Linked DNA regions of Homo sapiens. The protein of the gene in region 1 purifies or fractionates together with the protein of each later gene. This does not show direct contact. Each region holds a gene or a part of one and is shown on either strand. Other genes may lie near its edges.

Region 1 (4,297 bases):
TAATTTTTGTATTTTTAGTAGAGACGGGGTTTCACCATGTTGGCCAGGCTGATCTCTAACTCCTGACCTCAGGTGATCCACCCACCTTGGCCTCCCAAAGTGCTGGGATTACAGGCGTGAGCCACCGTGCCCGGCCTGAGAGTGTTTTATACGTAAATTTTTGCTCTCGTTTGACTTATTTCCAGCTGGTGAATGCATGGAGGGATCCTTGGCTTTGCTCTTCCTGTGCTGCTCCTGGGGCCTCTTCCTCATTTCCTCCCAAGGGCCCAGTTGTCCTTCCATGCCCCCAACAGGAACACAGCCCCCACCTCCCCATGCTGCAGGAACCCCCCACCACTATTTTCTTGCTCCAGCCCCTTTTATGGATTCCCGTATGGTAAAGACCATCTAGGTGTCTACACTTATGGATTCAGGGAAACTAAGGAAGCATCAGGTTCCAGGACAACCTAGAATGAGTACTTTTTTAAAATTCATAAGGAGAAAGTTTATCTTTTCAGAGAGGGTTGATAATCGTAGGGGACAGAGTAACATAGGTGAGTGATTATCATGGTGACTTGGCTCCCATACAGCTGTGGAGCTTGGAGTCAGCCATGTGACATGGAGAATCCCACCTCTGTTCCCTGTTCGGGGGTAGCTGTGTGGTGAGTACACAGCTTGTTTTAAGACAGGTGTTTGTGGCTGGGCACGGTGGCTCATGCCTGTAATCCCAACACTTTGGGAGGCCGAGGCGGGTGGATCACCTAAGGTTGGGAGCTCGAGACCCACCCTGACAAACCTGGAGAAACTCCATCTCTACTAAAAATAAAAAACAATCAGCCGGGCATGGTGGCACATGCCGTTAATCCCAGCTACTTGAGAGGCTAAGGCAGGAGAATCACTTGAACCCAGGAGGCAGAGGTTGCGGTGAGCCGAGATCGCGCCACTGCACTCCAGCCTGGGCAACGAGAGTGAAACTCTCAAAAAAAAAAAAAAAGGTGTCTGTACTAGGGCCCTCACCGCTTTTTGGTTTGTAATCAAGGCAATTGGCCTGGAGCACAACGCCTTCTCAGAGCAAGATGCTTTGGCCCAGGGCACTGTCAATACTGGAACATCTCTCAGGTTTCCCTGGAAGGCATTTACAAAAGCTACTCTCAAGTTCTCCTGGAGCCCCTAGTAGTTTCCCAGGAAGCCCACTGTCTCAGAGGCTGGGCAGAGCCTGGGAAGGACAAGGACTTCATTGTCTGAATTCTCTCTTCCTTCACCTCTGAACCACCTGCCTGCACTGCTTGGCCAAGTGAAGCAGAATGCCCCAGGCTTCCGAGGCACTGCCATGTGTAAGATCACTGTCCTCAGGAACAGAGCGGTTGTTCAGAGCTGGCTGGACTTTCTGAACCTCCCAGGATGTCCCTAATTCCGTTGCCCTTGACTTAACAGATCATCCCGTTCACCCTGAAGGAATGCTTCCGGAGCAGCTGAACTGGGGCAGACTCTGCAGGAAGCAGATGTTTGTCTCACTTCCTGCATCAGCCAGCGGCCACCAGCCTCCTCATGGGCCCCAATCCATGGTCCCGTATGGAAAGAAGGGGGATGCGGGAAGAAGCTCTCCTCACTGCCCCTGGAAAGGGCTGTTTAGTGTCCACAAAGTCCACAGACACGGCCTTCTAGCTTTGGCTCACATGTGGACCAGAACCCATGTTGAATGCCAGGATTTTACATTTCACATTTTAAAAGTCTGGTTTGGGGCCTGGCGCGGTGGCTCACGCCTGTAATCCCAGCACTTTGGGAGGCTAAGGTGGGCGGATCACTTGAGGTCAGAAGTTTGAGAACAGCCTGGCCAACGTGGTAAAACCCCATCTCCACTAAAAATACAAAAGTTAGCCAGGCATGGTGATGAGTGCCTGTAATCCCAGCTACTTGGGAGGCTAAGACATGAGAATCGCTTGAAACCAGGAGGCAGAGGTTGCAGTAAGCCGAGATGGCACCACTGAACTCCAGCCTGGGCAACAGAGCAAGACTCTGTCTCAAAAAAAAAAAAAAAACAAAAAAAAAAACACCTCTCATTTTGGCAGCCCACAGATCAAAGGGAACTGGGTCCTTATGTCAAGATGTTCTGGGTAAACTGCCTACCATGAAATTTCCAAGAAAGAAGGTCTCGCAAACCCCACAGCACCTTCCGTGAGGTTACCGAGAGTCTTTTCTAAGAACTTTGTTTTCCACTTACACGGACCAACAAAGCAAATGGTTTTACAAATAGAAGCAGTGAGTGTGCTTTTGAACCAGCCAACACTGTGGATGGAAAAAAATTTAAAGCAAAAAGCCTGTAAGTAAATCAGGAGTTTGTGAAGGGGAAAGCTATTTCCTTCTTTTCCTTATTTGAAGTTTAAGTTCAGCTTATTCTCCATACCTTCTGAGACACTGAAAAGGTAACATCTGAAGCCACAATGAGCAGACCCCCAACATATGGCAAGTGGGCTGCCTGGCCATCCTGTGAAATGCCCTAAAGGAGGACTCTTGGCCGGGCGCAATGGCTCATGCCTGTAATCCCAGCACTTTGGGAGATGGGCAGATCACCTAAGGTCAGGAGTTCGAGACCAGCCTGGACAACATGGTGAAACCCTGTCTCTACTAAAAATACAAAAATTAGCCAGGCATGGTGGCAGGCACCTGTAATCCCAGGTACTCGGGAGGCTAAGGCAGCAGAATCACTTGAACCCGGGAGGCGGAGGTTGCAGTGAGCCAACATCACACTACTGTACTCAAGCCTGGGCAACAGAGCAAGACTTTGTCTAAAAAAAAAAAAAAGAAGAAGAAGAAGGGCACTTGTCCTGTTGTAAGGGTGTGAGGGTAACTGGGGGAGCATGCAGAAGCTAGGGGCTCACCTGAGTAGGTCCAGTCAGACACATGCTGGGCCTGGCCACCCAGCAGGAACAGGGACAGCAGAAGCACCAGGGCCCTCATGGTGCTGCACATCTGTAATGAAGACTGATTCCGGCGAAGCTCTTCTTTTAAAGGCTCAGAAACTGTAAATAACAATTTACAATTGATCTGCCCAGCTGGCTAAACCACCCTTTGCTGCACCCACTAAAACAATAACACCCTCCCCATAACAGCACTTCTGGCTCCGTGCATTGCGCCAGGCAGCCCCAGCACCTGCCTGATCTCCTCCCACGTCAATTTCATATCCGGTCAGTCCATGGGTTTGGTTGTTCAGTGTCTTAGGAACACCTGAAGAGCCACACAGTGCAGCCATTGTGGACAGGTGACCGCGGAAATGGGAAAAGGCCCAAGGCAGGGAGAAGCAGGATGAAAGACTTTCCTGGACGTCGGACTTCCCATGCTCTTTCTCCTGACATTAGAGATCTGGGGACTGCTGATGGGATCACCACTGCCTGCAAACCCTGCCCATCTCAGTCATGGACACAAGCCACCGCTGCAGACATGTGGCTGCCCTCAGCCAGGCATCCAGGGAGGTGGCCTGGCCTCCATGTTTGGACATTTCACGGTCCTCTCCTTAAACCAGTGGTTGATCCTGGGTCCCAGCTCATGAGCCACATTCCAATGTGTGCCTTTATGCCATTCAAGCTGGTGTGGGCGTCTGCATTTCTACATGGATTTGTTCTGACACCTGCAGGGCTCTTGGGCACACCTAAGCCAATCAGCCAATTGCCCTCGCAGGATCCATGGATTACCTAATCCTGTGTATTCACTTGGCTAGACAGTCCCTGAAATTAGCTGAAGGAGAAACTTTTGAGTTTATGCCTGCTGACAGGCCAGCATTTCCCATGCCCTTCCACAAGGTCAAACACAAAGGGTAGCCGGAGCTCCTGCGGGGGGGCTACCATGCTGCCGGACACAAAGGGCCACCCCTGCCTTGTTATGGGGAGCTGAACCCCCTCCTGGCCTAGCTTAACTCATTGTCCACTTGGTCCTGGAATGGCAAACGTCAGCAGGCCTTCACAACAAGGATGTTAGCGGTGAACGTAGGCCTCCCGAATACTTCTAAGACTCCCCACTGTCATTTAATAGGGAACATCAGCTGCTGCAAAGAACTTGCTGGAAACTTCCATTTCTAAAGCTCAAGAGCTGAAAGAATCTCAGAGAGAGAGCAAAGCATGTTCAAGGACAAGGATTCTGAAACTAGACAGGATCTGTGCCACCTGCTAACTGTGTGACCATGGGCAACTCAGCGCTCTGTGCCTCAGCTTTCCTTCCTTTTCTTTTTTCTCTTTCTTTCTTCCTTTCTCTCTTTCTTTTCTTTCTCTCTTTCTCTCTTTCTTTCTTTTTTGAGACAGGGTCTCTCTCTGTCACCAGGCTGGAG
Region 2 (3,500 bases), on another chromosome or scaffold:
GTGACCTGGAAGATGAGTGAGTAGTTGGCAAAGAACAGGGCCAGAATTTAGCATGACAGTGATGGAACTGTGCCATTTTAGAATAATCTGCAAAGTCAAAGGTCAATGTTAATGAAATATTTTATGACCTGGTCAGACAGATAAATAGAAAAACACCAGTGGAAAAGAAACAGCCTAAAAAGAAATCATGTCTGCTGCTCTAGGCCCATAGTCAGCAGCAGCTCTGAGCTAGGTTACAGGAATGAAGAACTATTGCCTAATTGGAAAGTGCCAGCATTCCAGACTTCAAAAAATAAATTTGAAGAGGCTTCTCCTGTTTTATACATTATGTGAAGAATTTAGATCTTATATTGGTTTGTATAAGTTCCCTGGAGAAAAAAAACTGCTCTGTGTATATCTCTTGGAAAATAAGACATAACAGATGTGAAAATATACTTGACTCTAATATGATTATACAAAAGAGCATGGATGCATTTCAAATGTTAGATATTGCTACTATAATCAAATGATTTCATATTGACCTTTTTATCATGATTCCTCCCTATCAAGCACTAAAAAGTTGAACCATCATACTTTATATCTGTAATGATATTGATATTGCAGTAGATAACTTTTTTGAATCAATTACCTCATTTTATATTTTAAAAATTATGGAATATCCTCTGTCATTATATTCTAATTGAAATTGTGCATAATGCTTTGGAAAAATGGGTCTTTTATAGGAAAAAAACTGGGGTAACTGATTTCTACGACTTTCAAAGCTAAAATATACAATATACTAAACCAACTCTAATATTGCTTCTTGTGTTTTACTGTCAGATTAAATTACAGTTCTTATGTATGATTAAATTTTAGTATATTAAAAAACAAATGGCATCATTAGGCCCAGGCTAACCATCAGGTCATAGTGAAAGAATGAAGAGACACAGAGAAAAAGACCTGCCCTACCTCCTGATGCCTAACACCGCACCTATCTCCTTTCCCTCGGGCTTCTTCTTCATCATAGAGATAAGGGGCCCTTTACCCCCATCTCTGCTTCTTGCCCACTGCCCTCAGAACTCTAATCCAGTCCCAAGGCCTCCCGTGTCCTCAATAATGGTATCACTTACAGAGGGATATTCGCTTTTCACTGGTAGTTTATTCAGGTAGCTATAGGTCTTGTCTTTTTGGATAGGGCAGTTAATTCCACTCTTACAACCATCAGGCTCAGGAATGGGAAAGGGAACTGGGACGCCCATCAGGATGCCATGCACCACGGCCTTGCTGCTTTTAGACTGAATATCTAAGAGAAAAAAAGAGAATCAGATGGCAAAGAAAATAACCTATTTTCAAACTCTAAATCAAAAATTCAGAAATAATCCCAAGCAACAGCATTCCTAGGGTCTATTTCTCTTGATAGTGGTGCTTGGTACTAGCACAGTGCAAGCATTCACTCCAAACACAATTATGCAAAAAAAAAAAAAAAAAAAAAAACAATCAGCAGAAGTTTTCTTTGCTCTTAACCTTGCTCTTCATGGCCCTTCACAGTTTCTTAGGAGAATCAGAGATACCTGGATAAACAACCTTATCTAACAAGGCAACTGATTTTTGGCAGTAAACTTTCTGTTTGCTATTTATATCAGCTTCTGTCCAAGTATATTGTGTGTCTTAAATGTCATGGTCTGTAACAACAGTGAAAGAGGTAACCCTTTAGCAGGGTAAGATTAGGCTGGATCACAGTAGCTCCCACCTGTAATCCCAGCACTTTGGGAGGCTGAGGCGGGTGGATCATCTGAGGTCAGGAGTTTGAGACCAGCCTGGCCAACATGGAAAAACCCTGTCTCTACTAAAACTACAAAAATTAGCCGGGCGTGGTGGCGCATGCCTGTCATCTCAGCTACTCAAGAGGCTGAGGCGGGAGAATCGCTTGAGCCCAGGAGGCGGAGGTTGCAGTGTGCTGAGATTGCGCCACTGCACTCCAGCCTGGGTGACAGAGCGAGACTCTGTCACAAAAAAAAAAAAAAAAAAAAAAAAAAAAAAGAAATTGGGTAAGATTAGAAAGACATGCAATTCTTTATAAACTTTACCCTCCACATCACAAGATGGCCAGGAGGAATAAAGGTATTAAAAAATGAGGGCAATCAGACTTATGAGTTATTAGGGTATTTTGGAGACCCAGAAAATTGGTTCTGTTTCTTTCCTTCTGTCTGGGTTGGGGATGACTTGTTCAGAAGGCTTTTTTTTTTGGTTTGGAACAATAGAGAGGCCAGGGTATAGTCCAGAGAGGAAACAGGGAGCTAGTACTTAGAGCTGTCTTTAGGCTTATGAACAAAAGATGACAGGAACTTTGAGGTTTCTTATTAGACTGTCTAGTCTAGTTTCACAGGACAGAAAATGAGGAAAAGATTCAAGGAACATGCCCTGCTTAGTAATAAAAGATTTTACATTTGTCTAGATTCTTAAAAATCTCAAAGTGATGTGGTACAAGAAAGCAAAAAGTTCCAATGATATTTCTTGAATATTGGAGAAGAAAGCTCAGATTTCTTGGCTATTTCTTGGGTCCCCAGTGGGTTCCCTAAATCTTAAGGAGGCTGTTAAGTATTAGTTGCACCTTTATTTTCAGGTGGGATGTAGACTTAATAGCTGAAAGGCATTACTGCTTAAAACAACATTTTGGAGGAGTTCCAAAGCTTAAAGAATTGGGGTCCATACTAATACTCTGCAGTCTGTAGCTAAACAGAGCTGACATTCCCATCATAGCCTACTATGCAATATGGGTCAAGACAGAAAAGCCAAGCTGTCTTCTCTAACCTGTGAACACATGGACATCTCCCTGTTTGCTTAAAGGGAGTCTGGGAGCCATGGACCCTGCATGAGAAGGGTGTCCAAGGGCACAGTGAACCCTAGCTTTGCATGAGGTGCAAAAGAAATCATAAAATTCATGACTGCCAATTCCCCTCCCCTCCATTCCCATGCTTATTCCAACACTTGATATTTAGGTTATGCTGTAACATGAATTTGAGTTAAGAGCCACTTTTACGCACTGCTGGTGAAGGTGACATTGACGCTGTAAGACTGTCCTTTGCTCAGCTGGCAGGGTTGGGTGGGGCATGGGCTCACATTCACTTCCTTTATAACTCCATCCACAGAACCTGCAAAAGAAAAATGAATTGGAATAGGAGAATAGGAGGAGAAATAAGCCAGCTAGGCTGCCCACCACCTAATGGGAAGGTGCTCTGCTCTCCCATTTAGGGTCAACTCATTCTCCTCGGACTGTTTCCCAGGATGGAATCTTTAAGAATAATGCCCAATTAGAAGTCAGAATCTTGATTCATCTTGCTGCTAAAATCATAGCCTTTAATTCAGATGATAAAGAAGCTAGTTGGTTTTTTGATCAAGAGAAAGTTAATATTTGTCAAACTAAATAATATCAAGACCATATCCATAAATGATCATATTAAAGGAATTAAACTTCAATCAGAGAAATTCCAAACATTCCTAGAGTCTTATCTCGCATTCTT
Region 3 (3,500 bases), on another chromosome or scaffold:
GTTTTCAAACTAGCTATTAGTTACTTACCATTGGTATCTGGTTTGATTTTCTCTTCCTTAAGATGCAAGTTGCTCAACTAAATGGAGAATATGGGGGAGGGGGAAAGTGTCAGGAAAAGCACTTAAAAAGATTTGGAATCAACAGAGCCTCCCTAATGAAGCTGGGGATAAAATAGCCATTCTCAAGGTATATTCATTAGGACCAATTCATTGGGTTGTTCCGTTTACTAAATGTCTGATGAGAATAAACAAAATTTCCCGTAAATACATCGGTGGAAAAAAATGCTCCAAATCTGTACCTTCTACTTAAAATTCTGTGAGAGAATTGTAATTTGTGAGTTTGCTTAATGCCCTGATTATAAACTTTCTCTCTTTGTAGAATATCATTAGAGTTGTCATTCTCTCATATTTCTTTTGTGTGTGGGGGGGAATCGCTGCATTCCAAATCATATTTCAAACAAGAGGAAATTTAAAGAGATTTTGAAAAATGCAGTCATACTTTGGAGAACACTGGGAAGGGAGGACTGTGATGAAAAGCATCTGTAAAGCCAGGTGCGGTGGCTCGCGCCTGTAATCCCAACACTTTGGGAGGCTCAGGCAGGCAGATCACGAGGTCAAGAGATCGAGACCATCCTGGCCAACATGGTGAAACCCCGTCTCTACCAAAAATACAAAAATTAGCTGGGCGTGGCGGTGCATGCCTGTAGTGCCAGCTACTTGGGAGGCTGAGGCAGGAGAATCGCTTGAACCCAGGAGGCGGAGGTTGCAGTGAGCCAAGATCACGCCACTACACCCCAGCCTGGCAACAGAGTGAAACTCCGTCTCACAAAAAAAAAAAGAAAAGAAAAGAAAAGAAAAGCATCTGTGGGTAGGAATCAGTCATACTGCAGGATACGTTAGAGCCGTAAGACCACAGTATGCTGATGTGCAGCCTCACATTCAAGTCACCTTTTGCTGGTGTCTGATACTGTAGTTGGGAACAGCCTGAAGCATTGTGGCACACTGTGTAATTAAAATACCCACTGGGCTGAAGTGGAAATAGAAAGGAAAGAGACATTTCAAAGAATAATTACTAAGACTTTGATCAAATACTGTATATTAGGGATATCCTAGCAGGTCTTATCTCCTCTATTAGAATGCAAATACCTTCCTGACAGGGCCTATTTCGTTTTCTACTGCTCCTTGAGGAGCAGGGCTACCCCACAGGAAATGTGCCCAGAGTAGCATATTTCTATTTTTGGCCTTTGGATGTAGTACAGAGCAAAGTAAGTGCTCTAGTCGTAAATTTTTTGTTTGTTTGTTTTTTGAGACAGAGTCTTGCTCTGTCACCTGGACTGGAGTGTAGGGGCGCGATCTCAGCTCACTGCAAGCTCTGCCTTCCGGGTTCACGCCATTCTACTGCCTCAGCCTCCCGAGCAGCTGAGACTACAGGCGCCCGCCACCACGCCCGGCTAATTTTTTGTATTTTCTTTTTTTTTAAGAGATGGGGTTTCACGGTGTTAGCCAGGATGGTCTTGATCTCCTGACCTCGTGATCCGCCTGCCTCAGCCTCCCAAAGTGCTGGGATTACAGATATGAGCTGCCACGCCCGGCCTTTCTAGTCGTACATTTTTATTAAAAACAAAACAAAACAAAAAAGCCTTTTTTTTTTTTTTGAGACAGAGTCTCGCTCTGTTGCCCAGGCTGGAGTGCAGTGGCCTGATCTCAGCTCACTGTAAGCTCCGCCTCCCGGGTTCATGCCATTCTCCTGCCTCAGCCTCCGGAGTAGCTGGGACTACAGGCGTCCGCTACCACCCCCAGCTAATTTTTTTGTATTTTTAGTAGAGGCAGGGTTTCATCATGTTAGCCAGGATGTTCTCAATCTCCTGACCTCGTGATCTCCCTGCCTCGGCCTCCCAAAGTGCTGGGATTACAGGCATGAGCCACCGCACCTGGCCAAAAAAGACTTTTTTAAAGGTCAGAAAGCATCTGTAAGTCTTGGACCCCAGCACAGGGATTAGATAGATGGAAAGTCTGGCGTGAGTAAGTAACCTTTCAAGCTAAAGCCAACCCTAATCATAAAATATCAAGCAGGGCCTAAGACATCATCTAGTAAAAAGAAAATGAAAATCACAACCTAATGGTTCTTTCTTTTTTTTCTGCAGACGAGGTCTCACTCTGTTGGCCAGGCTGGAGTGGTGCAGTGGCATGATCATGGCTCATTGAAGCCTCAACCTCCTAAGGCTCAGGCAATCCTCCTGCCTTAGCCTCCCAAGTAGCTGAGACTACAGGCACTCACCACCATGTCCAGCTAATTTTTTTTTTTTGAGGCGGAGTCTTGCTCTGTTGCCAGGATGGAGTGCAGTGGTGTTATCTCAGATCACTGCAACCTCCGCCTCCTGGGTTCAAACGATTCTCCTGCTTCAGCCTCCCAAGTAGCTGAGACTACAGGCATGCACCACCATGCCCAGCTAATTTTTGTATTTTTAATAGAGACAGGGTTTCACCACATTGGCCAGGATGGTCTCAATCTCTTGACCTCATGATCCGCCCACCTTGGCCTCCTAAAGTGCTGGGATTACAGGCATGAGCCACTGCGCCCAGCCTGCCCAGCTAATCTTTTATTGTAGAGTTGGGATCTTACTGTGTTGCTCAGGCTGGTCTTGAGCTCCTGGGCTCAAGCGATCCTCCTGCCTCAGCCTCCCAAAGTGCTAGAATTATAAGTGTGAACTACGCATTAGGCCGCATTTCTGTTGTCCCTCTAAGTCCAAGAACAGGCGAAAGGGGAAGGAGGGTAGAGAGGAGAGAACAAAAAAATGTTTTAATTGGTGGTTTGTTGAGAATGGAGGAGCCCCATTTCTATTTCTCTTTTTTTTTTTTTTTTTTTTTGAGACGGAGTCTTGCCCTGTCGCCCAGGCTAGAATGCAGTGGTACGATCTTGGCTCACTGCAACCTCCGCCTCCTGGGTTCAAGCAATTCTCCTACCCCAGCCTCCCAAGTAGCTGGGATTACAGGCGTGTGCAACTACGCACAGCTAATTTTTGAATTTTTAGTAGAGACGGGGTTTCACTATGTTGGTCAGGCTGGTCTCGAACTCTCGACCTCGTGATCCACCCGCCTCGGCCTCCCAAAGTGCTGGGATTACAGGCGTAAGCCACTGCACCCAGCCAGGAGCCCCATTTCTTTTTGTTTGTTTGTTTGTTTTGTTTTTTGAGATGGAGTCTCGCTCTGTCGCCCAGGCTGAAGTGCAGTGGCGTGATCTTGGCTCACTGCAAGCTCTGCCTCCCAGGTTCACGCCATTCTCCTGCCTCAGCCTCCGGAGTAGCTGGGACTACAGGCGCCTGCCACCATGCCCGACTAACTTTTTATATTTTTAGTAGAGACGGGGTTTCACCGTGTTAGCCAGGATGGTCTCGATCTCCTGACCTCGTGATCTGCCCGCCTCGGCCTCCCGAAGTGCTGGGATTACAGGCATAAGCCACCGCGCCCAGCCTCCCATTTCTATTCATGGAAATGGACAA
Region 4 (3,500 bases), about 46 Mb from region 1:
GTGACAGCGTGGCAAGGTGGCCTCAAGAAGAGCCACCACTCTCAGGGGCAAAGAGGCCTTGGAGTGGCCTCTTCCAGCCTCTGGAAAGCTCTGTGGCCTCTGGCAGGTGAGAGCCCAGTCCTGCTTGCATACCTCCAGAGCAGGGAGCTCATTCCCTCTCACCAGGCAGCCCTGCCATACGCCTGAGAAGCTCAGACTGTGGCCAAGTTCTTCCTTTCACATCTGACCTGGAGGCCACCCAGGCCCTCCTGGTCTCACCAGCCTCGGTCCCTTCTGCACAGGCCACACTCCCTCCTGCCTCACAGCTTCAATCCACGTTCATTCCACTGCTTGGACACCGTCCCCTTTGCCTGGTTAATAATGCCCCCGTAGGTCTTGGCTAGAACAGCGCTTCCTCCAGGAATCCTTTCCTGATCCTTCTGCTGGATACACAGGCTCGCAGCTGCCTGCACTCCTTCAGAGCTCTCAGCCTATCCAGAACTAATCTGTGTCAAGTAGCATTTGTTTAAGGAATGGATTAATCTTCTGGATACACTGTTGGGGGAAGAGACCACATTCATTTCATTCACATTTGTATCCCCAGCACCTAATATGGTGCCTGGCGCACAGTGGGTGCTCAAAACGTTATTATTGAATGGTAAGAAAAGAAAAATGCAGGGCTAAAATCACAGCACCTCACTCAATACCTGACAGAGAAATGCATGCTACAGCAATAACTGATTTAACCCTCCAAACAGCCCCCCAGAGTGAGGGTTATCATTACCTCCCTTTTGCAGAGGAACCTGAAGATCAGAGAGGGTGAGTGACGTATGCAAGGTCACACAGTTAAGAGTGCAGGGTCTGGGTTTGAGGGCGGCAGCCAGCTCTAGGGCCCATGCTTGTGGCCTCCCCATGAATGAAGAAGCTGCTGCTGGGCCCAGCCAGCCTGCCCCATGCCAGCCCAACAGCTCCAGGAGGACTTCCTCCAGCCAAGCCCTTGATATGACTCCAGAAGGGGTTCCACACCCCTGCCTGCCATTCCTGCCACCTCCCACAGACACTCGGGGGAAGCGGGAAGGGGGGCAATCCATGGGCATCCTATGGGGAAGAAAGGGCCCCACGTCTGCTTCTGGCCCAAGGGAGAGGAGGGAACAGTGGCTGCCAAAGAGATACACTCACATCCTAACCCCCACAACCTGTGGCTGTGACCTTATTTGGAAAAAGGGTCCTTGCAGATGTGGTTAAGGTTCCCCACATGAGATCATCCTGGAGGATCCAGTGGGCCCTAAATCCAATGACAAGTGTCCTTATGAGACAATGAAGAGGAGAGAGACACAGAGAAGGCTGTGTGAAGACAGAGGCTGGGATTGGTGTGCTGCCGCTGTTGGGACACGGAAGAGGCAAGAGAAGCTTCTCCCTGGAGCCCCCCGGGAGAAAGTGGTCCTGCCGACACTGATTCAGGCTTCTGGCCTCCAGGACTGCAGAGAATCAACTTGTTCCAACCGAGGGGGTGGTAATTTGTCACAGCAGTGCTAGGAAACTAACTTAGGGGGCAAGATCTTCTCAGTCCCTGCCTGGACTGGGGTCTCTGTGATCCTCTGCCAGTGTCCCTCTTGGTCTCTGATATTAGCCTGCTCCGGGAGGTCCCTGAGGCACTGATGTGGAGTACAGGGGGCTCCAGGGCTCCACTGAAGAGGTCTCACCTGGTTGGAAAGGAACAGGCTCTTCCTACAGAGGAGCTGTCCTCTCCCTGGCCACAGGCTGCCCAGGCCGGGTCAGCACACATGACCGACCAGGCCCCTCACTTCTGCTGCTGCCACCCTTGCCAGAGGATGTCCCCCACACAAACCCTTTCTCCACACCCAGCCCACCAGCTCTGATCTGTTGCAATGGCAGCAACTCAGACATATGCAAGGTCACACAGTTTGGGTGTATGCAAAGTCACACAGTAGCCCCCCAACTTTTCACTTCCAAAAGCATCTGCACATCCTTCAACTCATTGGAGTCTCACAGCAACCTGTGAGAAGGACAGGGACAGGGTTATGTGCCCATTTTACAGACAAGAACGACAAAGCTCATAGAAGAAAGTGGCTTCCCAAGATCCCACGAGAACCGGTAAGGGGTGAAAGCTGAGTTCACCCCAAGCTCTGCGTCCTGGCACCATGTTGCATGGACCCACCACATTGCATCATCTCTGCGCTGAGCTCCAGACCTCACACCATGGGCACCTCAAACTTAACACAGTCCAACTAGAACCCTTCATTCTCTCCTCAGGCCAGGTGCATCTAGAGTCTTCCCCGACTGAATTGCCACCTGCAAGTCCCTGCTAGAATGCAGACCGTTTTCCATGGCCGCTCCTCCTCCCTCCCTTCCATAGCCAGGCCACACCAGGCAGAGGGAACAGTGGAAAGAAAGGCCTAGAGGGAAGACACAAAGTGGCCCAGGCAGGGAGCCCCAGGAAGCCAAACGGAGCTGGAGGCAGGTGGAGCAGCAAAACAGGAAGGTAGGCAGAGGCATCCCAGACAGGGTTGTGTCTATCCCATTAAAGGATCTGGTCCAGTCTGCAGGGCACTGGGAGTTATAGAGGCCTGGGGGCCCTAGGTAGAGTCACCATCAGATGAACCCTCCTTCCAAGGTAAGTGCAGCCTGCTGGGCCATTCCAAATGGTGAGAAAAGGAAAACAAGAGAAAAGAAGGAAAAGAGGATCATTTAAGGCAAGACTTTTGCATTTGTGGGGCAACAGGAAGGCAGGCAGTGGGGGCTGCAGGGGATGGGGATGGGACAGAAAAAAAGGGGTCAGTGGAGGTGCTGAGTCCCAAAGCCCCCCGAGAAGTGGAAACCACCAGCAGGGAGGCCAGGCCAGGGCAGAGCAAATGGATTCAGCTCAGATGGGGTGGGGCAGGGCACAGATGGGGGTCTTACCGGGGGGCTGGTATTCATCCGCCCGGTACCGTGGAGGGGTAATCCGCTCCAGGTTCCACGGGATGCTCTGGGCAAAGACAGAGGAGTCCTCCTCGATGTAGTCGACATGGGGCAACTTCAAGGCCTGCAGAAGCCAGAGAGGCCGGGGGACTCTGCTTAAGCCATTTGGACAGCAGCAAACACAGCCACAGCCTGGCCTTACCTGATCAAACCTGTCCCCACATCCCAGCCCAGCAGCCTCCCACCTTGTCCCTGCTAGTGCCCCGGAGGACAGACTAGGAGCCTGAGTTTTCTCGCTCCTTGATCAGGCTGGGAGCCCAGCACTCCCATATCCCTGCAACACGGTCTGGCATAGAGGATTCCTTTTAGGAAGGATTCTGAACTTGACATCTTGTCTGGGAGCCAGGCTGTGCCAAGGCTCTGGGCAGGATGGACATGGAGTGAAGCTCAGGCCCTGGACTCCATGCCTAAATCATGACATAACAGCACTGGCAATTCGGTTTGTCCCCTAGTCTATTCTCCAGCCTTCTCCAGCCTGCTCAGTGCAAACTGCAGCACCAGCTCCCTTGCAAAGCTTCCAGTTGGGCTCAGCCAATGGG

Evidence for each region. Proteins that work in one complex are often made in the same cells at the same time.
Region 2: the proteins of CA6 (region 1) and NPC2 purify together in Homo sapiens (affinity purification with mass spectrometry; one large-scale study listed by BioGRID and IntAct). This does not show direct contact.
Region 3: the proteins of CA6 (region 1) and DDX19B purify together in Homo sapiens (affinity purification with mass spectrometry; one large-scale study listed by BioGRID and IntAct). This does not show direct contact.
Region 4: the proteins of CA6 (region 1) and PCSK9 purify together in Homo sapiens (affinity purification with mass spectrometry; one large-scale study listed by BioGRID and IntAct). This does not show direct contact.

What each region holds. Positions count from the first base shown.
Region 1 is NC_000001.11:8,944,527-8,948,823, reverse strand, and holds the start of CA6 (carbonic anhydrase 6 isoform 1 precursor), read right to left. Parts: upstream 2,957-4,297; 5' UTR 2,950-2,956; coding exon of another isoform or gene 2,938-2,949; coding exon 2,859-2,937; intron 1-2,858. UniProt on the Homo sapiens protein: Reversible hydration of carbon dioxide. Its role in saliva is unknown.
Region 2 is NC_000014.9:74,483,306-74,486,805, forward strand, and holds part of NPC2 (NPC intracellular cholesterol transporter 2 isoform 2 precursor), read right to left. Parts: intron 3,132-3,500; coding exon 3,024-3,131; intron 1,283-3,023; coding exon 1,110-1,282; intron 1-1,109. UniProt on the Homo sapiens protein: Intracellular cholesterol transporter which acts in concert with NPC1 and plays an important role in the egress of cholesterol from the lysosomal compartment.
Region 3 is NC_000016.10:70,309,186-70,312,685, reverse strand, and holds part of DDX19B (ATP-dependent RNA helicase DDX19B), read right to left. Parts: intron 78-3,500; coding exon 29-77; intron 1-28. UniProt on the Homo sapiens protein: ATP-dependent RNA helicase involved in mRNA export from the nucleus.
Region 4 is NC_000001.11:55,046,048-55,049,547, reverse strand, and holds part of PCSK9 (proprotein convertase subtilisin/kexin type 9 isoform 1 preproprotein), read right to left. Parts: intron 3,026-3,500; coding exon 2,902-3,025; intron 1-2,901.